7 linked regions of the Homo sapiens genome follow. The protein of the gene in region 3 purifies or fractionates together with the protein of the main gene of each other region. This does not show direct contact. Each region holds a gene or a part of one and is shown on either strand. Other genes may lie near its edges.

Evidence for each region.
Region 1: the proteins of SLC2A7 (region 3) and LMBR1 purify together in Homo sapiens (affinity purification with mass spectrometry; one large-scale study listed by BioGRID and IntAct). This does not show direct contact.
Region 2: the proteins of SLC2A7 (region 3) and TM9SF2 purify together in Homo sapiens (affinity purification with mass spectrometry; one large-scale study listed by BioGRID and IntAct). This does not show direct contact.
Region 4: the proteins of SLC2A7 (region 3) and ATP13A3 purify together in Homo sapiens (affinity purification with mass spectrometry; one large-scale study listed by BioGRID and IntAct). This does not show direct contact.
Region 5: the proteins of SLC2A7 (region 3) and ERGIC2 purify together in Homo sapiens (affinity purification with mass spectrometry; one large-scale study listed by BioGRID and IntAct). This does not show direct contact.
Region 6: the proteins of SLC2A7 (region 3) and RABL3 purify together in Homo sapiens (affinity purification with mass spectrometry; one large-scale study listed by BioGRID and IntAct). This does not show direct contact.
Region 7: the proteins of SLC2A7 (region 3) and ATP2B3 purify together in Homo sapiens (affinity purification with mass spectrometry; one large-scale study listed by BioGRID and IntAct). This does not show direct contact.

Annotation. Positions count from the first base shown.
Region 1 is NC_000007.14:156,722,184-156,725,683, forward strand, and holds part of LMBR1 (limb region 1 protein homolog), read right to left. Parts: intron 3,343-3,500; coding exon 3,252-3,342; intron 1,996-3,251; coding exon 1,929-1,995; intron 1-1,928. UniProt on the Homo sapiens protein: Putative membrane receptor.
Region 2 is NC_000013.11:99,542,972-99,546,471, reverse strand, and holds part of TM9SF2 (transmembrane 9 superfamily member 2 precursor), read right to left. Parts: intron 2,610-3,500; coding exon 2,477-2,609; intron 1-2,476. UniProt on the Homo sapiens protein: In the intracellular compartments, may function as a channel or small molecule transporter.
Region 3 is NC_000001.11:9,012,924-9,016,423, forward strand, and holds part of SLC2A7 (solute carrier family 2, facilitated glucose transporter member 7), read right to left. Parts: intron 2,320-3,500; coding exon 2,194-2,319; intron 1,946-2,193; coding exon 1,758-1,945; intron 713-1,757; coding exon 602-712; intron 1-601. UniProt on the Homo sapiens protein: Probable sugar transporter. Even if its physiological substrate is subject to discussion, it is able to transport glucose and fructose. Does not transport galactose, 2-deoxy-d-glucose and xylose.
Region 4 is NC_000003.12:194,445,503-194,449,002, forward strand, and holds part of ATP13A3 (polyamine-transporting ATPase 13A3), read right to left. Parts: intron 3,135-3,500; coding exon 2,955-3,134; intron 2,508-2,954; coding exon 2,350-2,507; intron 1,614-2,349; coding exon 1,425-1,613; intron 1-1,424. UniProt on the Homo sapiens protein: ATP-driven pump involved in endocytosis-dependent polyamine transport. Uses ATP as an energy source to transfer polyamine precursor putrescine from the endosomal compartment to the cytosol.
Region 5 is NC_000012.12:29,340,013-29,343,172, reverse strand, and holds part of ERGIC2 (endoplasmic reticulum-Golgi intermediate compartment protein 2), read left to right. Parts: coding exon 1-53; intron 54-1,356; coding exon 1,357-1,439; intron 1,440-1,954; coding exon 1,955-2,017; 3' UTR 2,018-3,160. UniProt on the Homo sapiens protein: Possible role in transport between endoplasmic reticulum and Golgi.
Region 6 is NC_000003.12:120,736,017-120,739,516, reverse strand, and holds part of RABL3 (rab-like protein 3), read left to right. Parts: intron 1-849; exon of another isoform or gene 850-990; intron 991-3,500. UniProt on the Homo sapiens protein: Required for KRAS signaling regulation and modulation of cell proliferation. Regulator of KRAS prenylation, and probably prenylation of other small GTPases. Required for lymphocyte development and function. Not required for myeloid cell development.
Region 7 is NC_000023.11:153,576,642-153,580,035, reverse strand, and holds part of ATP2B3 (plasma membrane calcium-transporting ATPase 3), read right to left. Parts: intron 59-3,394; coding exon 1-58. UniProt on the Homo sapiens protein: ATP-driven Ca(2+) ion pump involved in the maintenance of basal intracellular Ca(2+) levels at the presynaptic terminals. Uses ATP as an energy source to transport cytosolic Ca(2+) ions across the plasma membrane to the extracellular compartment.

The sequences.
Region 1 (3,500 bases), on a different chromosome or scaffold from region 3:
ATTTCACAGGAGCAAAGGAGACCACACTAAGGTCAGGGTTTCCTTGAGAGAGGCGACAAGAAAGACTGAAAAATGTCACAGCTTGGAATCTGATTGCTTAAATACATCCTCTATTCTAGTCTTATAAGCTTTTCAGCTGGTAAATCAAAATCCTGTTATACACTAGGATAATATTCATGACAATTCCCTATATTTTATCTTCTTAAAATCAAAGACTCAATTCTAAAGGGTTAATAGAGGAATTACAAAGTAACTCTCTAGTTTGCATTTCCCATAATGCTAAAATAAAGCTTTTTCTTTTAGTCTAGAAATTTGCTTTTTTAATACTGTGAAAAGCCTCTATGAATCTGTTTAACGTATTTATTTCTTTTCATCTATTCAATGCCACTGGGCATAACATGTAATGCAGTGCGTGTTGATATTTTGCAAAGCACCACATGACTCACTGTACCCTAATGCACTCCATTAATCCTGTTTGGACAGCTGGGTCCAGGCATTTGTTAGCTGCATTTTAATTGTTCCATCTTTCTTTTTTTTCTTTTTATTTATCTCTATGGCAAACTACTCTGGAATTTAATTTGTTGGCCTTCAAAAAGTAAATTTTACCATTAGTTTGTTTTCTTTGTGTTAAAACTATACTCAGCATGTAATTTTCTTCCATAAAATCGGTATATATTAATGATTAGCAATCAATCTTAAATAATAGTACAGTGAATGAGTTTCCTAAGTATTAAAATGATAGGTTGGCTGAAATATAACAGAAATTATTTAATAGACTGTCATAATATAAATGATAACATTTAACATCAAATCAGGTTGCTAAAGAGCATACTTTTGGCATTTTCAAGATTCACATAAGCAGATGTCAAAACAATTACAAGTCCTATAAAGCAAACACAAAAGAAATAAGACTATTACACACACCAGTTTTTTATTAGCTTATGGAACAGTGGTCCCTTTACATTTATACTTTTTGTTTTCTATTACAAACATGAAATCCTTTGTAAGAATTATGAAGATAACTACAAAGCTTCTACTTTCTTTGCACAGCCTGCATCCCTGGTATCTGTAAGTCTTCAATAAATAATGGAGGCAATATGAGAGCTAATGCAAAAGCAACTCAAAGTTACCAGCAATTTTTGTTATGAGCAAGTAGCTAAAATTTAATGATCAAAATTTTCCAATCATTCGTGTGCACTCTTAAGTCAAAACCTAAGTCTAGAGAATTAGATAGAAATGCTTAATGGAAACTTTTGTCTGAAATAATATTTAGTGAAGAACTCAGAATATGGTCTACAATAGCATTTTATAAAAGACAACTAAGGGAAGACTTACTCAACTATTTCAATGACAAAGCAAAAATCTGTTTTTCTTTTAAAAGATTATCAAATTCTCCGTAAACTGAAACAATAAGAAAATGACAGAAATGAATGACAGGCAAGTAGGAACTCTCAAGGGTGTCCTTTGAATCAGAGTGTGTTCTCAGAGATTACACTGCGTTCACCTCTATTTTGTGGACACAAAGCAGCTTAAAATAATTTACAAATTTTCAATTTTTTAAACCATACTAAATTATAAACGCTCAAAAGCTTTTAAATAGAAAAATTAGTTTAATGCAGTTTCCTCACTAGAGGACTCGAAAGCCTAACTTATAGATGTGTCAGTAAAAACAAAATACAACAAAAACCAGCCCGTTGTTTGGAGAAAGAATGCTTTTAAGTGTTTAAAAAATAAGTAGTCATTATTTGATAAAAGTATTTGTCTTGGTATGCCCCTATACATAAAGTATAGAAGTAAAAGTGTAAAATAATGTAGGAAGAAACACTGTATTTCAAAGGTAATCTTTATGAGTAAATGTTAAATAAGTTCAGTAAAGACAGTTTTTAAAAACATGGATCTTTAAGTGAAAATTTCTCACTGAAACTTACCCAGTGTTCTCGACATCACAGGCAGAGCAGAGCTCAAAACCAAGATGGACACACAATTTCCAATGATCTGTTATGAGAAACGAGAAAGAATATTGGGCAGTTAAACAGCAGGATGACAATCAAACCCAGTAACATTCTGAGAAATGATTGTGCATTCTAGTTACCTAGTGTACTTTGCCGATTTCTTAATGATACTATTCAGTACAGAATTTTCAAAGAATAACACACTTTTAAAATAAATAAAGTTATATCTGTAAGTTCTAGAAGATGTTTACAGTACCTAGCACAGATATAGTTATAGAATACTTAAATTACTTGACACCTAGATAATGCACTTTACATTACTGATTGCAGCTGTTACTTTCAAAAGGCTCTGCCTGTCAAGCAAAAAATAATTAACATATTGGATACTTCTGACTACATTTTTAAGGCCAGATTATTGCTTAAGATCTCTTTTATCACATCTATTTCTAATGTTAATTGTAAGATTTAAAAAGCACCAGAAATCCAAAACCTCTAAACTTTTGTAATAATGCATCCCATGTTTATTCTTCCATAGTAAATAAGAGGAGTTGAAAATATCAATTAATATTTATGATCACTTAAACTAGATACTAAATATCTCAACTACTTATTAAGTTTAAAGAAATAGCTGTGTGTGTGTGTGTGTGTGTGTGTGTGTGTGTGTGTGTGTGTAAAATAACTTCTCCCCTTTAAGTAGGCTAAAAATATAAAATAAAAACAAAACAAGCTTTCAGCTCTTATTAGTTATTCTTCTTTGTCAGCCTACGGGAATATTTTATAAAGATTCAGTCACTATATACGGCAACAGCCTTTTTATTCTGAACCCAATGACATGTTGTGGAAAAAGTCAAATTAGCCTCAGACTACAAAATGTTTCTGAATAGAACTCTTCCGTCTTACTTTAATTATTCAAATTTGAAATACTTTGTCCCTACTACTTGTAGCAACTAAGTTCTTCAGACTTCAAACAAGCTCCCTGAAGTACAGTTAGCACAATCCAAGTTACTCATTAGCAATACGTTTTCTTTAGAGGAAAAAGAGTCCTTTCAGGAGCCTTCTATAGCTAGTTAACAAGCTCTGCAGTTCTCCGCATTTACAGTGAATGGACGCCATCCAAATTAAACAGGGTACATCCCTTTCCCACTCACTCAGCATTTTGAAAATCTTCCAGTTTGTGTTTACGCAACTTACAAACAAATACCTATCACTGCAAATGAACCATTCAGAATGACTATTAAATAAAGCAGTCTGTCAGGGAAGGCAAACGAGAGGCCACAGTCACCTAAGATTCTACCTTACCTTTGTCATAGTTGTGTCATCTTTCTTGGGAGTAAAGTTTCCAAAAAATCGAAGGCTATAGAAGCCGACAACAGAGGACACCATAAGATAGCTGTGAGAATCAAGGAAAAAAACTCTCCAACAGAATGCAAGTTTCCTAAGTTCTCGGCAGTCTCCAAAAAGTCTTAAGGCCCATAGGAAAAGCAAAACAAAAAGCCGCTTTAAGTGCTTGAGGAAGACTAACCTGTTGTTTTCTCTTCTAGACAAGTG
Region 2 (3,500 bases), on a different chromosome or scaffold from region 3:
CAAATTACGGAAGGACCTTGTCAGCAATACGGGGAAACCCTGGCCCTACCTTATTCACGTGGTTAGCTTTGTTTGCTCTTCCCTATGTAAGCCTTCCTACTAATGAGAATTAAAATGCTATATTATATTCATAGAAATTCCCAGCTTTAAGCTGGGGCTCAGAAGTTATAAGGTGCTCAGAATCCCAAGGTGAGTAGGATACTGCTGAGAACTGAGTTTCAGGAGGCTCAGCAAGAAAATCCCCATTGTTTCCCCCCCTATTGTTTCCCCTAAAACGTGCATGACCAAGCACGTATGTGAGCAAGCACGCGCACACACCTCTGACAAGCACCAGAGTCATGATGAGCAGGAAACACATCAGGGTAGCTTTAGAAGATGTACAAGATTTCAGCTAAAATGCAACCCCTTTCTCCTCCTCGACCTGAAAAATGGACTGCCCTTCGGCAGAAAGTTCCTATTTGAGGACTTAAGGAAAATTATTCCCATCGTATTCTATCCTAGACTCTCTGAAACTTTCCTTCCTTAAAAGTTCACTTTTCTAGCTGACCGCAATAAAAACCAGAGCATCGCAGAAGACAGCTCCTAATAAGATTTGAAAGCAGGAGTTGGCTGGGTGTGGTAGCTCACGCCTGTAACCCCAGCACTTTGGGAGGCCGAGGCGGGCGGATCACGAGGTTGAGAGATTGAGACCATCCTGGACAACATGGTGAAACCGTGTCTCTACCAAAAATACAAAAATCAGCCAGGCGTGGTGGCAGGCGCCTGTAATCCCAGCTACTCAGGAGGCTGAGGCAGAAGAATCACTTGGACCTAGGAGGTGGAGGTTTCAGTAAGCCAAGATCACGCCACTGAACTCCAGCCTGGTGACAGAGCGAGGCTCCGTCTCAAAAAAAAAAAGAAAGAAAGAAAGCAGAAGTTTATCTTCAAACATTCATTCTGCTCTAAGTCTAGTTTGGCTCTCTGTCACCCAGTGCCTTCACCCTACCACCCTCTGTCCAAACCTTTTTTATGACACCTTTTCCTGACCTATTCTCTTTAGTATGACTTAACTTCTCTTTAGTATGATATAGTTACAAATTCTAGCTCTACCTATCAAAATTGTATCTCCTTAAGTTGTTAGTAGATTAAAAAAAAAAGATATCCTAGTCAGTCTTCAAACTGAACCTGAAGGTGTGAGTTTGGTTCCCAAACTTATTCAGTGCCAGACATTTGAAAATGATACTGCTCTTTGCAAAGCATTTATATAATTAATTTTATCATAAAAATTTGGAACAACTTTACTAACAAAAATAACTGTGGTATTATGTATTTAATATGTAATCAAACATAAAAAATAAATGTTTACTAAAAAATTATTAAAGGTTAGTTTCTGAATTCTCCCAGTATATTCATTTGTTGCTATTTATCAGTAGCAGGCATCAATAAAGTAAAATACATTAAATAAAGGTAAAATTTAGAAAATTCTATTCATAAACCTTTTTTATCTTCCAATTAAGGAAACTGGAAGACAGTGGAATTAACATATACCCAGAGGTAGTTTCAGAACAATCCCTGTGGCTATCAATACCTCTAAGGAACATTTATTTAAAAAAAAAAATTGTCCTAGTTGGCAAAAATTTAAATACAATTTCTGAAGTCGCTGAGGTAGCTCAAAGAAGAGAATCTTTTTATGGAGGAAGGAAGGTCTTTCCTACACACTCGCTTTCCCTAGAGGAGAGAGATCCTGCTTCCCAAATCCTCCCCAGATGAGAAGGATCTACACAGTGCTTCCTGCCCCATCCCTTCTTTTCCCACCCTCCTCCCTCCGTGGAAGCCAAGAATATCCTGGAACCCTAACCAGACTGTGCCTGCCCACGATGCCTGGGTAAAAGAGACCCTAAATGGTCCCAGTTCTGGGCTGTTTAGACTCAGATGCTGATGGTCTTAAGGACCTGTTCATCTCCAGCCCAGTGCCTCCCTGACAAAGGCTTGGTCTAGGAAGAGCTGAAGGGAGAAACCAAGAGTCAGTCTTTGGGTGCAACTAAACCTGCCCCAAGTCACTTAGATTTTGAGAACCTAAAGGATGCTCAGAAATAATCTGGCTTACCTACCCACTTAGAAAAACTGTGGTGTTTTTTGTTTTTTTTTTTGAGATGGAGTCTTGCACTGTCACCCAGGCTGGAGTGCAGTGGCGCAATCTCAGTTCACTACAACCTCCGCCTCCCAGGTTCAAGCTACTGCCTCAGCCCCACAAGTAGCTGGGATTACAGGCACCTGCCACCATGCCCAGTTTTTGTATTTTTAGTAGAAAGACGGGGTTTCACTATATTGGCCAGTCTGGTCTCAAACTCCTGACCTTGTCATCCACCCGCCTTGGCCTCCCAAAGTGCTAGGATTACAGGCATGAGCCACCATGCCCGGCCAGAAAAACTGGTTTTTAAGCAATTACTGTATTTAGAAAGTATTTTCTACTTGAAAATTTTCAGTTAACACTTACATAGAGTCACAAAGGTCATAATTAAAATCTGTGTCCCGGATCCTAGAAAGACTGATAGCAGCATCCCTTTTCTTGGAGGACGGAATATATCACCATGAACAAGTTTCCAGCCAAATTCTTCCTGGGCATCTTCCTAAAAGGGGAATGAAATCAGTTCGATTGTCTCATGGTATCAACAAGACAACTATAGACAGTTTGTTCACTGTTGAATATGCTGTTACAGAAAACAGGTTTTTTTTAAACTTAAAAATGTTAGTACCTATTTCAATTTTGAAGAATACAGCTTGACTCATGGAGCTTAATATGGCTTTGCTGAACTGTCTTATATGTCAGTTTCTTAAATTTATGACATTAAGGTCTACAAATATACTTATTGAGAAACTTTACAAAGACAATGTGATTGCTACCTAATTCTACTCTAAGTCAAGCTTTGTGATCTGACTTGATGACGATTTTTAGTCACATTCTATCCTCTTCATCCTACTCTTAATGATCTCCACAATAAGCAAATGGCATTAGCTCTCATATTCTAGCTACTTTGCTAATACAGTAAGCATGGATGTAAACATTCATTGAGCACCAACTATAAGCTCGGCTCTGTTTAAAACACCAGATACCACAGTGAGTGTAACAGAAAAATTCCTACTCTCAGGAGTACATGATCTCATTGGGAAGGCAGACAATAAACAAAATAAGTCAGGAAAGTATACTGTACATTAGATGGTAATAAGCGCTGTACAGAAAAACAGGATGTATGGGTGTGTGCAGGACAGGATGTAACATATGTGATGGCTGGGAGGGGTTCAATGGGAAGATCACATTTTGTAAAGATCGGAGGGAGGTAAGGGAACTAGCCATGTAAATGAGGGGCAGACCTTCTTAGCAGATAAAACAGTGAGCTTCGTGAAGGCTCTGAGGTGGAAACCTATGTCTGCCTGGTCTGAGGAACAGCAAGGTAGCCGGCACAGGTGCAGCAGAGTGCTGAGGTAACGTGGGGCCTTAGAAGCCACTGTAAAGCCTCTGA
Region 3 (3,500 bases):
TGTCACCCAGGCTGGAGTGCAGTGGTGCCATCTCCCTGCTCACTGCAATCTCCACCTCCCAAGTTCAAGTGATTCTCCTGACTCGGCCTCCCAAGTAGCTGACATTACAGGTACCCACCACCATGCCCAGCTCATTTTTGTATTTTTTAATAGAGATGGGGTTTCACCATGTTGACCAGGCTGGTCTCAAACTCCTGACCTCAAGTCATCCACCTGCCTCAGTCTCCCAAAGTGCTGGGATTACAAGTGTGTGCCACCACACCTGGCTAATTTTTTTGTATTTTTAGTAGAGACTGGGTTTCATCATGTTGGCCAGGCTGGTCTCAAACTCCCTGACCTCAAGTGATCTGCTCGCCTTGGCCTTCCGAAGTGCTGGGATTACAAGTGTGAGCCGCCGCGCCCGGCCGGCTCTGAAGGAATTTTGAGTTTTCTGGTCAAAGTCATGCAGGTAGTTAGTATGTGTGCATCCTAAAGTCCATGTCCCTTAAATGACCCCAGGACCAGGGCCACCAGCACTCAGTTCACTCTGTGGGGCTCCTGTCTGCCTGGCGGCACCTGGCCAGAGACCCTCCAGCAGGAAGGATGCCTCCTGCTCACTCACCGAGGTGATGGTCATCACTATGTTGACGACGCCAGAGCCCACCGTTACATATTGGGAGTGAGCGGCCTCCACGCCCGCAGATGTGTAGATGGTGTCCGCATAGTAGTTGATCTAAACAAAAACACAGGGCTGTCAGGACAGGCCGGAAGACCCAGGACGCTGGCTTAACTTTCTCAACTCAAGCCACACACAGTTCTGCAAGCCTGGGTTGGGGACCCTGGGACAGGAAGAGGGTAGCAGGTGGTGGGAAAAAGAGGCCTGACCTGGAGTCGGGACACCAGGGTGGAGCCCGGCGCTGCCCTGGAATCCAGGGTCGCAGCTCCTCCCTCTCTGGGCCTCAGGTTTGGCGTCTATAAAATGGAAGTCAGACCATACGACCTCCAAGAGCACTTTTCCCTCCATCATTCAGTTACTCTAAGAGCTCAGATCCCAAAGAATGACTTCTTACCTCTCACTCTGGGCCAAGCCAACCGCAAGTTGAGTCTGTCTTCTGGCCCCATGCCAAGGACATTGGCACAAACAGCCCTTTGAAAGGCCACGTGTGCTATTCCACATCTGGTGGCTCCCACCTGGGCCATCTACCCTCCCACGATCACTGGTTAAACATCCATGAATCCCTGAGGCCAAGGCCACCTCTTCCCGACACGCCACTGGAGCAACTGGGTCACCCACCCAATCTCCAGTGTTTTAGCTTCTGTCAGATCTCCACCCTTCCCTCACACCATGGTTAGATACAGTTACAGCCAAAGAGCCACGGTCGCAGAAAGCGATGCCACAAACATCACAGACAAGTGGGCCCAAGATGGGCTCCTGACACAGGCTGGGCCTACCAACCCAGGCCTGGTGACCTGAGCTTGGACCCAGGAGACCTCAGCTCATCTCAGTCTAGCTGGTCTCTTGTATAGAAGGGAAAGGACTATTGGCAGGAGGCATTCCTTCTGGGGACTGGGAAACAGAGAAAAATGAAGCTGGCATGTGGGGAGAGGCAGAGCACGGAGGCAGAGAGGAGTGAGGTTTCTTCCTGACATCTGGCTCTGCCTGGACTGATCCTGGCCCCACTGCCAGGCCAGGCCTCTGTGGGTGGAACTGTGTGTTGCTATCCATGAAGCCTGGGTCTGCTTCATCTGTCTCCCTGCCTGGCCACCGTCCCACATACCGCATTGATGCCCGACAGCTGCTGGCCGGCCATGAGCACGATGATGGAGAGGAGCTGCCAGCGCAGGGACCGCAGGGCACAGAGGTGCAGCACAGACAGGTGGCCCTCGGCGCGCTCGGCCCGGGCCTCCGCACGCATGTCCTCCAGCTCGGCCTCCATGTCCGTGTGGCCTCTCAGCCTCCTCAGAGCTGCGGAAAGCAGAACCACCCGCTCAGAGGGCCGTCTCCCTGCAGGCTGGGCCCCAAGCCCCCATGCTGGCCCTGAGCTCACCATTCCCTGACCTGACCTTGGTTGTGCCCCAGTTGCCACCCCCCCACCCCGTTCAGCTCCCAGCTCTCACCCCTGACCCATGGCGACCCTGACTGTGGCCCTGACCGTGTCTCTGCCTGGCCCCCGGGGTGGGCAGGGCCTGGGAGAGTAGCCGGCGACTTCATACCTTGTCGCGCTGTGGCTTCATCTCCTTTCTGAATCAGGGAGTAGCGGGGGCTTTCGGGGAAGAAGGGCAGGGTCAGCAGCTGCAGCAGGGCGGGCACCCCTGTGAGCGCCAGAAGCACCGGCCAGCCTGCAAGGAGCCAAGGACTCAGGATCCCGGGGCCTGGGCACCCCCTGGCCCACCTACCACTGTGCTCGGAAGGTCACGCTCCTATGTGTGAACCAAGGACTGTGGGGACTTCATTCTCACCAGGGTACTCCTACAAATGGTTTCCACATTCAAAACGGAGGGAATCATGAGAGTTATACAAATTTACACGTCATTAATTATTTTGCAGGAAGAACACCGTTTCTCTAAAGAATAGGCAATGATTTAAACACTTGAACCCCGGAGAAAATGAGCTCAGTCTTGTTCCTACTTTTATAGCAGGAAAGGGGATAATCTCTGCCTCATTAGGGCCATGGTAGGGCAGGGCCTGGACCCTGCGCTGGGTCTGAGTGAGCTCCTTCTGGATGGCTTGGCCTAAGGAGGGGAACTGAGATTCCACTAAGAGAACAGGGTCTCCGTCTGCCTCCCACCCCTGCTGGTATGGTGGGAAGTGGACAAGTTCTTTTTTTTTTTTTTTTTTGAGACAGAGTCTAGCTCTATCAGCCAAGCCGAAGTGCAATGGTGCGATCATAGCCCACTGCAACCTCAATCTCCCAGGCTCATGTGATCCTCCCACCACAGCTTCCTGAGTGGCTGGAACTACACGCGTGCATTACCGCACCTGGCTCATTTTTTTTTTTTTAATTTTTAGTAGAGACAGAGTCTTGCTATGTTGCCCAGGCTGGTCGTGAACTCTTGGGCTCAAATGATCCTCCTGCCTTGGCCTCCCAAAATGCTGGGCATGAGCCACTGCACCCAGCTGACAAGTTCTTTAATGTCTCTGAGCCTCAGGCAAGAAGTGGCGAGGGCTGAATGAGGCACAGGTGCTAAGCGTCATGCACGGTGGATTCCCCAGCTGATGTCTCTCTAATTGACGATTTAATACTCAGCGGCTCTGGGAGTTTAGGAATCATTACTGTTAACGATCTTTCATGGAGCACCCTCCAGGTTCTGAGTCTCTGAACCTCTTCAGGGTACTGTGGGGACCACAAAGACATAAATCCACCCATTAAGGAATATGTGCAGAATTTGGGTCATTCAGAAATGTCTGTAAAAAACCCCGGCCGGGCATAGTGGCTCATGCCTGTAATCCCTTCACTTTGGGAGGCGGAGGCAGGAGGATTACTTGAGCCCAGGAGTTACAGATCAGCCTGGACAACATA
Region 4 (3,500 bases), on a different chromosome or scaffold from region 3:
AAAATAAGACTGACAATGTGTTGATAACTGATAAAGCTGGGTAATGAGTAAATGAGTGTTTATTATACACACATCTTTTCTCCACTTTTGTCTTAAAACTTTTAGGAAAGTTTCCAAAAAAGACAAGCATAAGTGAAATTTTTTGAACTGATAAATATGAAATAATTGTAGCAGTATGTGACATATTTTTTTCTAACAGAACATGTTTCCCATTTTTTTCTGTAATAATGAAATGCACAAAAATCAAATTTGTATCACATCAGTTACCCAGAAAAGTTTGATAGAAGGTTTTCTGGTCAAAGTTTAATTCTCAGAAAACTTTAAAGAAAATTCCAGCTCAGGAAAGGAGAAACCTTTCTAAGAGGCAAGATATACTTCACACAGGTACATAATTTGTCATTTTCACATAAAATCAGTGACCTTCATAATTCTTAAACATATTCAATAAAATCATACAGCAAACACTAAACATACACACTTACAAGCAATAAAATCATAATAAATATATATGTATGGAGCCTATTGTGTTAAATAAGAATTACTGTCTAAAAAATTAAAGGTCACGTAATCTTTACTGCTACTACTATTAATACTACTAGGCCTAATTCTGGAGTTAACTGAAGCTTTGAGCAAATAAGCAATATCCAAAGTATTAAAAATTGAGAAAATAAGAAATATAGCATGTCCTCAAATACGATTGTTTTGTCCGTCTTTTTTTATAACACGATGGGTGCCAGTGGTGGGGAGAGCTGAGGCCCAGCCGCGACCACTATCTACATGGAGTTTGCATGTTCTCTCCCTGTCTGCATGGGTTTCACTCCAGGTACTTCAGTTTCCTCCCACATCAAAGCTACGCAAGTTAAGTGAACCAGCACATTTAAATGGTCCCAGTCTGCGCGAGTGTGAGTACACCCTGCGATACGATGGCATCCTGTCTAGGGCTGGTTCCTGCCTCGTTCCGCCAGTTGCTGAGATACGCTCCCACTACCCAGGAGCCTGAAATAAAACAACTGGGTAAATAATTACCTTACTTGTTTTTATTTCTTTCTTAAATGAATGTATAGCTCATATTTATTTCAATGATTAATATCAGAAGTGTTTTAGATCTTTATTTAGAAGTTTGGTGATTTTTTGTGACCAAAATATGGCATAGGAACTTAAATCTCATTTGTATCAATTAGCCTATGGTAAAACTGGTTTCATTTCATTTAAAGTTGCAGTTTTCAAGAACCTATCAGTAATGTTAAGTGAGAACTTATGGTATAGAAAAATGATGCATATACCAAATAAGTGGAGGAAAAGGAAAATTAGAGGAACATGACAGAATGTGTCCAAATTTGTTGACAAAGAAAATAAAAAACATTGATCTAAATATTTAAACGCTACGAAGTAACCTTTGAAAGTAACTATGAAACTGAACCCACCTTGTCAAAGCAAACAAGATTGAGCTGTCCACAAATATTTATTCTTTGAGGACTGATACAGAAAATACCGATTTTTTTCAGTCTTCTCTGAGCATACACAATACCAGCAGTCATTGCAGCAGGAAGTGCAGGGGGCACAGTAATTGTGATAATATCAAGAGACTCGATAATTATGACCCCAACTTGTACCTACAATTAACACAAAAATAAATGTCAAATCCCCAGTATTATTTACGGATTTAATATGGGTATTTCTTTAGTGAAAATCTGTAAGCCATTTTCAATTGTATATTTCAATTTTATGTATGTGTGTGTATATACATATCTATTAACCATATATAATTTTTTTCTTCAGATATTTCTGCAAAATAAAAAAGCTCAATGGATTATAGAATGACAGCTACTTTCAAAAGAAACTTATCTCATTTTCAAGGCGCTACATACTTCACACATGACACACTTCAAAGCCGGTCAACAATCATTATCAGATATTGACTCAGCGTGCACACACCTTACTGTACCACTCTCCACTTCTGACAAGCGGCGCCTTCAATTAACTAACCACAAATCATTTTAACACTGTATATTACATCTCAGAGGTAAAAAAGAGAAAATAAAGCTTTTGGTGATTATGTGGGGGGGTTTTTTTTCCTGTTTTTTTTTTTTAAAGTCACAAGACCAAGTAAAAGACCATCTAAACCAGAGGCACCCAAAAGAAGTATCCTTTACAATGGAAATGTTCTATAGCTGGGCTTTCTAATATCATAGCTACTAGTCTCATGACTTTGTTAGCATTAAATTAATTAAAATTAAATTAGCTTAAAATTTTAGTTCCTCATTCTCAGTAGCCACATTTCAAATCCTCAATAGCTGCATATGATAAATAATTGAGGTTCAAACCCTATTAAGAGTCCCACATACATACCTCATTTAAAATGCTATTAATAATAGTGTAGATAAACCCAATGCCAGCAACTGCCACAAGACATAGTAGAAACAAGTAGGCATCTCTGTAGAGTTTAAAATCAGTTGGTTTGGGATACAATATGGAACGAACAAGCTGTCCTTTGGAAGTACTAAATCCTTTCAAAAAAAGAAGACAATTATTGATATTTTTATAAGAAAATGAGAATTATCTCCCAAAACAGAATCTCTCTTTTTTTTTTTTTGAGACAGAGTCTCGCTCTGTCACCCAGGCTGGAGTACAGTGGTGTGATCTCGACTCACTGCAAGCTCCGCCTCCTGGGTTCACGCCATTCTCCTGCCTCAGCCTCCCGAGTAGCTGGGACTGCAGGCGCCCGCCACCAGGCCCGGCTAATTTTTTTGTAATTTTGGTAGAGACGGGGTTTCACCATGTTAGCCAGGATGGTCTCAATCTCCTGACCTCATGATCCGCCCACCTCGGCTTCCCAAAGTGCTGGGATTACAGGCGTTAGCCACAGCACCCAGCCCAGAATCTCTTTTTAAACATTTAGTAGGTATCAAATATGCTGAAACATGCAAAAAGAGATTAATTAAGATGTTTCCTACCTGTTCTAACAACTATGGCTTTGACGAGTTCTCCAGTGTAGAAACGAGTCTGAATAACAGTTGTCCCACAAAACAAAGTATGTCGTTTATGTGTTTCTGGATTATATAATTCATCTCCTATTCCTTTCACATCCACTGAAGGATTTGGCAAATTAGTCTTTGTCACTGGAACACTTTCTCCTTTAAAAAACAACAACAACAACAAAAACAGTTTACAAATTATTAAACGAAAGCACAGGAATCAGTATCGAACACCAAAAAATATTAAATTGTTAAATATTTTAAATGCTACCATACTGTTTACAATAATCACTGAGAGTTGTATATGTGGACAACATGGCTTAATTTTTTGTCTACCAATTTCCTCACATAGAAGTATCAAATATTATCTCCCACAATAATTCCAGAAAGTGATTTGTGGCTCAAAGGTAATATTTGTTTATATTTAGAAACAGTTGCATTGTTCAGTTTCAAATAATTTCAAAAAAGATTAAGTAGTTGCTATAGTCCCTGCACCTCTAAGAACTAATGGTAACAGTGGAAAGC
Region 5 (3,160 bases), on a different chromosome or scaffold from region 3:
GCAGTTTTTTGTAAGACTCTGTGGTATTGTTGGAGGAATCTTTTCAACAACAGGTTAACAACCATTTCCTTTTTGTCTAATTTCTGAAAGTGTTGCTTATACTTAAGTTGCTTCTTCTCAAAGGGGCAAGAAGTATACAGATTTTCATGTTTCGGTGTTTAAATAGCTTTTGCTTTAATTACAAAACTCCAAAATTATATTGACTAACCAGTAAACATAACTAATTTCATTGTATTCAATGATGTAAGGTAGATTATATAATGGTGAGTTGGAAAGATCCTGGGTGTTAACATCAGATTGAAGTAGAATTGAATGTAAGTTCTGTCATTTACTTGGTGGTAGCTTGGAATAGATCACCTACCTTTTCTGAGGTTTTCTAATCAGTAAAAATAGCAATAATAATACCTAATTTGCAAGTGTGCTATAGGATTAAATATGAAAATGCCTAGAAGGCATTTAAGACATTTTTAACTGTACAGTATGTAAAATCATATGTTATAGTACTTTGAATTATGCAATACATGAAACTAGATTTGTAATCAGTAACATGTTTATGATTTTTGTCCTGAGATCCTGGAATTCGCTAAGATTATTTGTCGAATTGTAATGATGAAAATTGGGAGTTAAGTACAATAGAGAAAAAGGAAACAATTCTATTTTCATCTTCAGTCCTTATTCAGTATTAGATGGAGCTGGGTAGTTTATTATACTTAGAATCATATTTTTAAATGAATGAATAGCTTTTCTTTCGAAATTCTTTGTTAGTGCTTCATTTCAATCTATTTAAATTTGTGTTGTTGACATCATTTATTTTCCAAAATTGTATTGGTGTGGGAAAACCTTGAAAAGATTGTGTTTAGGCCCGGTGCAGTGGCTCATGCCTATAATCCCAACACTTTGGGAGGCCAAGGCTGGCGGATCAACTTGAGGCCAGAAGTTCCAGATCAGCCTGGCCAACATGGCTAAACCCCGTCTCTACTGAAAATATAAAAAATTAGCCGGGCATGGTGGTACATGCCTGTAATCCCAGCTAATTGGGAGGCTGAAGCACAAGAATTGCTTGAGCTGGGAGGTGGAGGTTGCAGTGAGCCAAGATTGCACCACTGCACTCCAGCCTGGGCAACAGAGTGAGACGTCTCAAAAAAAAAAAGATTGTGCTGAGATCGTGAATTATGTGGCCTTGTGACTTTGAAAAGAAATCCATTTGTTTTAAAATCTTTCTTGATTATTTTTAACCATGGAAGTGAATAATGCAAACTGCTTTGTTTTCTTCCGTAATCTATTCCATTATAGTTATTTATTCTTAAATAACAGTTTAGGAAATAATTAAAAGCATAAACTTATTGTTTATTACAGGCATGTTACATGGAATTGGAAAATTTATAGTTGAAATAATTTGCTGTCGTTTCAGACTTGGATCCTATAAACCTGTCAATTCTGTAAGTGGTGTAGTATACATGGTGCTGATCTCTAAATCTTAGAATCATTGTTAAGTCTATGAGCCAGTCATGGTGGCTCACACCTGTAATCCCAAGACTTTGGGAGGCTAAGGCGGGAGGATCGCTTGAGCCCAGGAGTTTGAGACCAGTCAAGGCAACATAGTGAGAGCCCCATTTCTACAAAAGATAGAAAAAATTAGCTAGGCAAGGTGGTGCAAGCCTGTAGTCCCAGCTACTTGGGAGGGCACAGTGGGAGGATCACTTGAGCCCAGGAAGTTGAGGTTGTAGTGAGCTATGATCGTACGTACCACTGCACTCCAGCCTGGGTGACAGAGCAGACCCTGCCTCAAAAAAGATAGAGATAGAGAGATAGAGAAATAGGGGGAGAGAGAGAGAGAAATAGTAGCTTTTGGTTACTAGAAAGGATTGCCCAAAATAAAACCTTGTGTTTAGAGGAAAGAGTATAAGGAATAAAACTAATTCTTTGGTCTTTTTTTCCCTCCTTTTCTCCTTAGGTTCCTTTTGAGGATGGCCACACAGACAACCACTTACCTCTTTTAGAAAATAATACACATTAACACCTCCCGATTGAAGGAGAAAAACTTTTTGCCTGAGACATAAAACCTTTTTTTAATAATAAAATATTGTGCAATATATTCAAAGAAAAGAAAACACAAATAAGCAGAAAACATACTTATTTTAAAAAAGAAAAAAAAGGATAAAAAAACCCAAACTGAAATTCTATATACGTTGTGTCTGTTACAAATGTCGTAGAAGAAATCATGCAGCTAAACGATGAAGAAGCCCAACTGGAGTGTTGCTTTGAAGATGACGCCTTCTTATATTTTCATAGCAAATGGGTGGTATCAAAATCAGACATTGCTTCTTGCTGATAAAAAGCCTGAAGGAAATAAGTGAAACTACATCTATGGGAAAAAAAAAAACATTGAGAAGTGCAAATGTTCGCATCCTTTTGTTTTTAAAAGATATGATGTCAGAATAAAATGTGGAAAACATACGGAAAACTAGTCTAGACTTTAAAGAATTGTGATCAGGTCACATTGTTAATAAAAAAAAAAAACGGGCTAGTCCCTATGTTATAGCCATATTAATGTTAAGCCATATTGACAAGACCAGTTATCCAATAATTTGGTCTTAAAAAGTAACTACTTTTCTTTGAACTCTGGTTATTGACTTATCTAACTGTTGAAGATAGAGTCTTAGAAGACTAAGGTAAATTCTCACAGGGGCAGATATGTAGGTGTTATGTAACTAGGGTGTCATTCACAAATGGTATAGTAGAATCTTATACACGGAAAAGAAAGCACATTTTTTTAAAAAAGATGCCAAGTTTTTTAATCTAATCATTATATTATTGGTGTATTTTGGGCAACATAGGGTGAGTTATAAAAAGATCCGCTACTGATAGTGAAAATTACCGGTTTGTAAAACATTAAGAGAAAAAATAGGATATTTTATACATGTGGTGAGTGGAGAACAGGGTAACTTTAAATGAAAGTGTAAGGCAAATTGTAAGCACCACAAGATATATCAGATTTGAGAGGTGCCATGTTAAACATTGTCCATTAAACTATAAAACTGTATTATGAAGTATTTGCATTCAGGGTGTCCTGAATATGATTGATTCTGTATTAGATTGTGTTCTAACTTTCTTACTATTTAAGGATTGGTTCTAAATCTTCACATTATAAAAGATTAAA
Region 6 (3,500 bases), on a different chromosome or scaffold from region 3:
GAGTAGATCAACAGAGAATTTATGAGAGGAAAAACAACTGATTTGCCAGAATAATCATAATGATAATCTTTGATCTTTATCAGAAAGTAAAGAAATGCAGACTAAAGCAAGCTGTCACTCCCCCACTGCCCGCCACCACCGAGACGGATTGTTGCTCTGTCACCCAGGCTGGAGTGCAGTGGCGCAATCTCGGCTCACTGCAGCCTCTGCCTCCTGGGTTCAAGTGATTCTCTTGCCTCAGCCTCCCAAGTAGCTGGGATTACAGGCACCCACCACCACGCCCAGCTAATTTTTGTATTTTTAGTAGAGACAGGGTTTCACCATTTTGGCCAGGCTGGTCTCGAACTCCTGACCTCGTGATCTGCCTGCCTCAGCCTCCCAAAGTGCTGGGATTACAGGTGTGAGCCAACGCACCTGGCCAAGATGTCACTTTTATTCCTTTATCAGGTTAACAAGGATGAAAAGCCAACTACATGATACTGTTGAGGTGCAACAAGACCTGCAGGCTCAAGTGTATGGCTGGTGGCAGTATAACCCCATGAAAGTTATTTCTCAATGCATATCAAGAACTTTAAATGTTTCCTTTTAAGTACTGAGTTTACTCCTGGGAAGGTATACTAAGGACATAATTTTAATTTTAAACAAAGGTTTAAACAGAAATAACCTTTCACTAGCATATCAAAAATTTCAAAACACCCTAAATATCTAATAATAATGGAAGAATGATTAAGTAAATTTTTATGCCTACTTTCTGAAGTACTATGGAGATACTTTAAATGTTTATGAAGATTTTGGAATAATATGGAAACTTTTAATAAATACTAATTAAGGTTCTGATCTAAATACTAGAGATAAAAAAGCTGCGTAAGAACCCTCAAGGAACTTAAAATTAAGGGAGTGGTTCCAAGATGACCAATTAGGAACAGCTCCAGTCTACAGCTCCCAGCGTGAGCGACGCAGAAGACAGGTGATTTCTGCATTTCCAACGAGGTACCAAGTTCATTTCACTGGGGCTTGTCAGACCGTGGGGGCAGGACAGTGGGTGCAGCCCACTGTGTGTGAGCCAAAGAAGCGCAAGGAGTCAGGGAATTCCCTTTCCTAGCCAAGGGAAGCGGTGACAGACAGCACCTGGAAAATTGGGTCCCTCCCACCCTAATACTGTGCTTTTCCAATGGTCTTAGCAAACAGCACACCAGGAGATTATATCTCTGACCTGGCTCAGAGGGTGCCACACCCACGGAGCCTTGCTCATTGCTAGCACAGCAGTCTGAGATCTGCAAGGTGGCAGTGAGGCTGGGGGAGGGGCGCCCGCCATTGATGAAGCTTGAGTAAGTAAACAAAGAGGCCAGGAAGCTCGAACTGGGTGGAGCCCACCGCAGCTCAAGGAGGCCTGTGTGCCTCTGTAGACTCCACCTCGGAGGGCAGGGCATAGCCTGAAACCTCTGCAGACTTAAATGTCCCTGTCGGACAGCTTTGAAGTGAGTAGTGGTTCTCCCAGCACAGAGTTTGAGAACAGACAGATTGCCCCCTCAAGTGGGTCCCTGACCCCCGAGTAGCCTAACTGGGAGGCACCCTCCAGTAGGGGCAGACTGACACCTCACATGGCCCAGTACCCCGCTGAGAAAAAGCTTCCAGAGGAATGAATGATCAGGCAGCAACATTTGCTGTTCAGCAATATTCGCTGTTCTGCCACCTCTGCTGCTGATGCCCAGGCAAACAGGGTCTGGAGCGGACCTCCATCAAAATCCAACAGACCTGCAGCTGAGGGTCCTGACTGTTAGAAGGAAAACTGACAAACAGAAAGGACATCCACAACAAAACCCCATCTGTCCGACTCCATCATCAAAGACCAAAGGTAGATAAAACCACAAAGATGGGGAAAAAACAGAGCAGAAAAGCTGAAAAGTCTAAAAATCAGAGCACCTCTCCCCCTGCAAAGAAACGCAGCTCCTCGCCAGCAAAGGAACAAAGCTGGATGGAGAATGACTTTCACAAGTTGAGAGAAGAAGTCTTCAGATGATCAAACTTCTCCGAGCTAAAGGACGAAGTTCAAACCCATTGCAAAGAAGCTAAAAACCTTGAAAAAAGATTAGCTGAATGGCTAACTAGAATAACCAATGTAGAGAAGTCCTTAAATGACCTGTTGGAGCTGAAAACCATGGCACAAGAACTACGTGATGATGCACAAGCTTCAGTAGCCGATTTGATCAACTGGAAGAAAGGGTATCAGTGATGGAAGATCAAATGTATGAAATTAAGTGAGAAGAGAAGTTTAGAGAAAAAAGAGTAAAAAGAACGAACAAAGGCTCCAAGAAATATGGGACTATGTGCAAATACCAAATCTATGTCTGATTGGTGTACCTGAAAGTGACAGGGAGAATGGAACCAAGTTGGAAAACACTCTGCAGGATATTATCCAGGAGAAGTTCCCCAACGTAGCAAGGCAGGCCAACATTCAAATTCAGGAAATACAGAGAACGCCACAAAGATACTCCTCAAGAGGAGCAACTCCAAGACATGTAATTGTCAGATTCACCAAAGTTGAAATGAAGGAAAAAATGTTAAGGGCAGCCAGAGAGAAAAGTCAGGTTACCCACAAAGGGAAGCCCATCAGCGTATCTCTCAGCAGAAACTCTACAAACCAGAAGAGAGTGAGGACCAATATTCAACATTCTTAAAGAAAAGAATTTTCAACCCAGAATTTCATATCCAGCCAAACTAAGCTTCATAAATGAAGGAGAAATAAAATACTTGACAGACAAGCAAATGCTGAGAGATTTTGTCACCACCAGGCCTGCCCTAAAAGAGCTCCTGAAGGAAGCACTAAACATGGAAAGGAACAACTGGTACCAGCCACTGCAAAAACATGCCAAATTGTAAAGACCATTGAGGCTAGGAAGAAACTGCATCAACTAATGAGCAAAATAACCAGCTAACATCATGATGACAGGATCAAATTCACACATAACAATATTAACCTTAAATGTAAGTGGGCTAAATGCTCCAATTAAAAGACAGACTGGCAAATTGTCAAGACCCATCAGTGTGCTGTATTCAGGAGACCCAGCTCATGTACAGAGACACACATAGGCTCAAAATAAAGGGATGGAGGAAGATCTACCAAGCAAATGGAAAACAAAAAAAGGCAGGGTTTGCAATCCTAGTTTCTGATAAAACAGACTTTAAACAACAAAGATCAAAAGAGACAAAGAAGGCCATTACATAATGGTAAAGGGATCAATTCAACAAGAACAGCTAACTATCCTAAACATATATGCACCCAATACAGGAGCACCCAGATTCATAAAGCAAGTCCTTGGAGACCTACAAAGACACTTAGACTCCCACGCAATAAAAATGGGAGACTTTAACACCCCACTGTCAACATTAGACAGATCAACAAGACAGAAAGTTAACAAGCATATCCAGGAATTGAACTCACCTCTGCACCAAGCGGACCTAATAGACCTCTACAGAACTCTCCATCCCAAATCAACAGA
Region 7 (3,394 bases), on a different chromosome or scaffold from region 3:
ATTCTGGTTTCTCCAGGCCTTCATAGAGCGAGCTACGGAACGCTTTCACCACCCGGATCTGGAGTGGGAGGTGGAGGGACAGGGCGCGAGGTGGGAGCAGGGAGGGAGGAAAGGAAGGGAAAGGAAAGGAAACGTGGAAGGAAGGTAGGAAGGAAGGAAGGAGACAGTCAGTGGCCGGCTGGTGCTGGTAAATTCCACCCACGTCAATGGCTGGGGGTCATGGCATGAGAAATGTCCACCCATTTGTTGGAGGGCTGCTACGGAATGGGATGGCTCTGCCTGCCTTTGGAAAGAGTTTTCAGGTGTGGGCCTTGGTCTCGTCAACCGATCCGCATGCAGGAAAAGATGGCAGTGTCTTTCTCTAGGCTGAGCTGGGCAGGTATTCTGGAACTTGAGAGTGCTGCACTAGGCTCTTGGCTGTGACCCCGCAGTTCCCTGTCCTGGGGAGACGAGTGGCTTTGGTGACCTCTGGGGTCTCTGCCCAATCTGAATTCCAATTTGGTAGAAAAGAAAGATGATTTGAAAAGGAGAGAATGCTGGTGAGTGGGATGTCTTCTCGATCTTACCAGAAAGTCCGAAGTACCTGCTGGTATGAGCAAGTTCCCAGCCTATGGGCACTGCCGGCCTTTCTCGCATGGGTCTCCCTCCATCCCCCAGCTCCCATGGCTGGAGCCGGGACCTGCCATGTCGAGGGTCTCCCTGCGGCTAACTCCACTGGCCACTTCTGCATCTTCGTCTGATTTGATCCCTCAGGGCACTCAACACAGAAGATCATCCCTCTTTCTGGAAGCTTCTCATGGCTTCCTGACATTGCCCCTGCCTGGCCCTCTTCCACCTCACCAGCTGCCCTGGCCCCATCTCCTCCACTGCCCTCTCTTCTGTCCCTGGGTGCCCCAGAGCTCTGGCCTGGCTCTGTCCCTCCTCCTCTCTGTCCATACCTCTCCACCCTGGCCACAGTGCTGGGGCCCATCTGGCTATAACCAGAAACTGTGGCCCAGGCCTGTACTCAGAGCTCCAGGCCAGAGAGCCCAGCAGTCCCCAGCTGGAGGTATCTGAGACCGAAAATGGCCACACTTTTGATTTGCACCCACTAAAGCCTGTCTCTGCTCAGATGCCCCTGTGGCCTCCTCACAGCCCCCGTGTCTGACTGGGTCTGGTTCAATCTGGTGCCCCTGCTCTTCTGACCTCACTCCGCCTGTCCTCTCTCCCGTCTCCTCCTCCATCTTCCAGTCAGACATTCCAAAACTTGCGTCTCTGCTGCCTCCCGGGCTCCGCTCTGTGTTGTTCCCTGGCCATCCCTCCCCACAGGAGTTTGCAGACCTCAGATCAGCGGAACTTCCCGCATGAAAGAGCTCCCGCTGTGCCCCAGACTCCCCCGGCACAGTGGCCCTCTGCCCCCAGCTGAGCGCACGGCAGCCCTTAAGCCCCCTGACCCTCCGGCAGGGCACTGCTCCAGGAGCGAGCCCTTCCCTCCTCTGGCTTCTCCACCTTGCCTCACGCACTCAAGTCCTTGCTGCCTCTCTTTGCTCCCTGGCCCCTCAGCCTGGGCCCCCTCCTGCTTCTAGAAGCCAGGAGTTGATGGGGAGGCCTCTGCCTGGCCTCGCACAGGCCAGTGTCAGCACAGCCGCCAATGGTAGCTGGCCCACCTTGTACTGCCATCCCTATAGGGGGCAGCAGACGGAGCGCTGAGCTGCCAGGCAGACCCTGGGGTTCATCCAACACCTGTCCACCCCTGCCTATGTGAGCAGGTGGACACATTAGGAGTTCTGAAGCATTTCTGGGGCCAAGGTTCGACCTAGGATTTGGTTTTCTGGGTTTAGACAAGGTGTCAGGGCTTGCTGAGGGGCTAACCCCAGCTCTCTGCTAGTTTTGGTTAATAAAATTTTACTGGTTTAAGTTTCATGCTGTAAGGGCACAGTTGTGTCACGGCAGCAGAGACCAGGCCTGGAAAGCTAAAAATATTTCCTCTCTGGCTCTGTCGTTTAGACAATTAATCACCTTTTTTCGGTGACTTTCTTTCAGCCCTCCAGGGGCTCAGCTAGGCAAAGCACAGTGCTTCGGAATCAGCTGAAATGATGCCAACCTCATCACCTCTCCAGTGCAAAAAGTGAGCCAGGGCCAGGTTTGGTGGTCCACGGCTGTAATTCCAGCACTTTGGGAGGCCGAGGCGGGCTGATCGCTTGAGCTCAGGTGTTCGAGACCAACCTGGGCAACAGAGTGATACTCCCCGTTCCTATTTAAAATAATAATAAAAAAAAGTAAGCCAAAAAGCTCCACATTGGAATTTTCTAGCACCCCATCTGAAATCTGGTTCGGATTTTCTCTGCATTCGGGAAAGCCACATCTGCCAGACGGCAGATGGTCAGCTATTCTCACTCAGGCCTTTATCCCCAGACTGGTTTCTGAATTAGGGGTAACACAGAAATTGAGAATAATTTGACGTTTTTAATGAAAAGAAACAGAATTCAGTTTTCGTAGCCAATGCAGATGTTGCCTCATTATTTAGGCCTTTTCTGGTACAGGATTGTGGTGTGGAAGCCGCCTGGGACATCGCCTGCTAAAGCTGTTGCCCATCAAGTCACAAAAAGGACAAAGTGCTGCAGGCCTTGACCCCAGGGCTGTGTGGGGTGAGATCTCGCTGAGCTGGTGGCCTCATTCAGACCTGGGGGCATGTGATCAGGCCAGGCCCCTGCTCAAACCTATGCACAGGTCTCACTGCACCTGGCTCAACTCCAAAGACCTCCATAAAGGACAGCCAGGCCACGGAGCCAGCCCTTCCTTCCAGGCTGGGCTTCTGCTGCTACTGCTCCTCCGGTCTCACCGGCTACTCCAGCGTGCCCCTCCCGGATGGCATCTGCCTTGTTTGTGGCTTAACAACAGAGCCTGGCCCAGAGCAGCTGCTCAGCAGACACTTGGGGAATGCACAAGTGACTGAGTGAACCGCTGCAGGATGGAAGGGCTGCCCCCCAACATTCTGCTGTTTGGGGGTGCTAAGCTTGGCTGGAGTCCTGGTGAGTCTGTTACAGCTGACAGTGAGTCAGCTTTCTCCAGGCTCTATTTTCCCTGCATCCTAATCCTGGGCCATTAAACAATGTTTTGGTGTTGGTGTTAAGGTGGGGTGTTTTCAGCCCACCCAACACTGAAGGATGCAGTCGATTCCTGGGAGATTGGTTCAATGGAAAGCAACAAACGTTTCTAAGAGAGGCCCATCCCAGAGGGCTGCACTCCTACCTGGGTGCTCAAGGATGCCCTCCTTCCACCAGCCTGGGTTCACTCTGTCCTCATCTCAGGCTCCTGCACCGCCTCCTGCTCTGCTCTCAGCCCAGGACGCGCCACGCCCCCTACTGCTCCCAAAGGAATCTCATGGCCCCCAGGGCTGTCAATGCTGTCTATA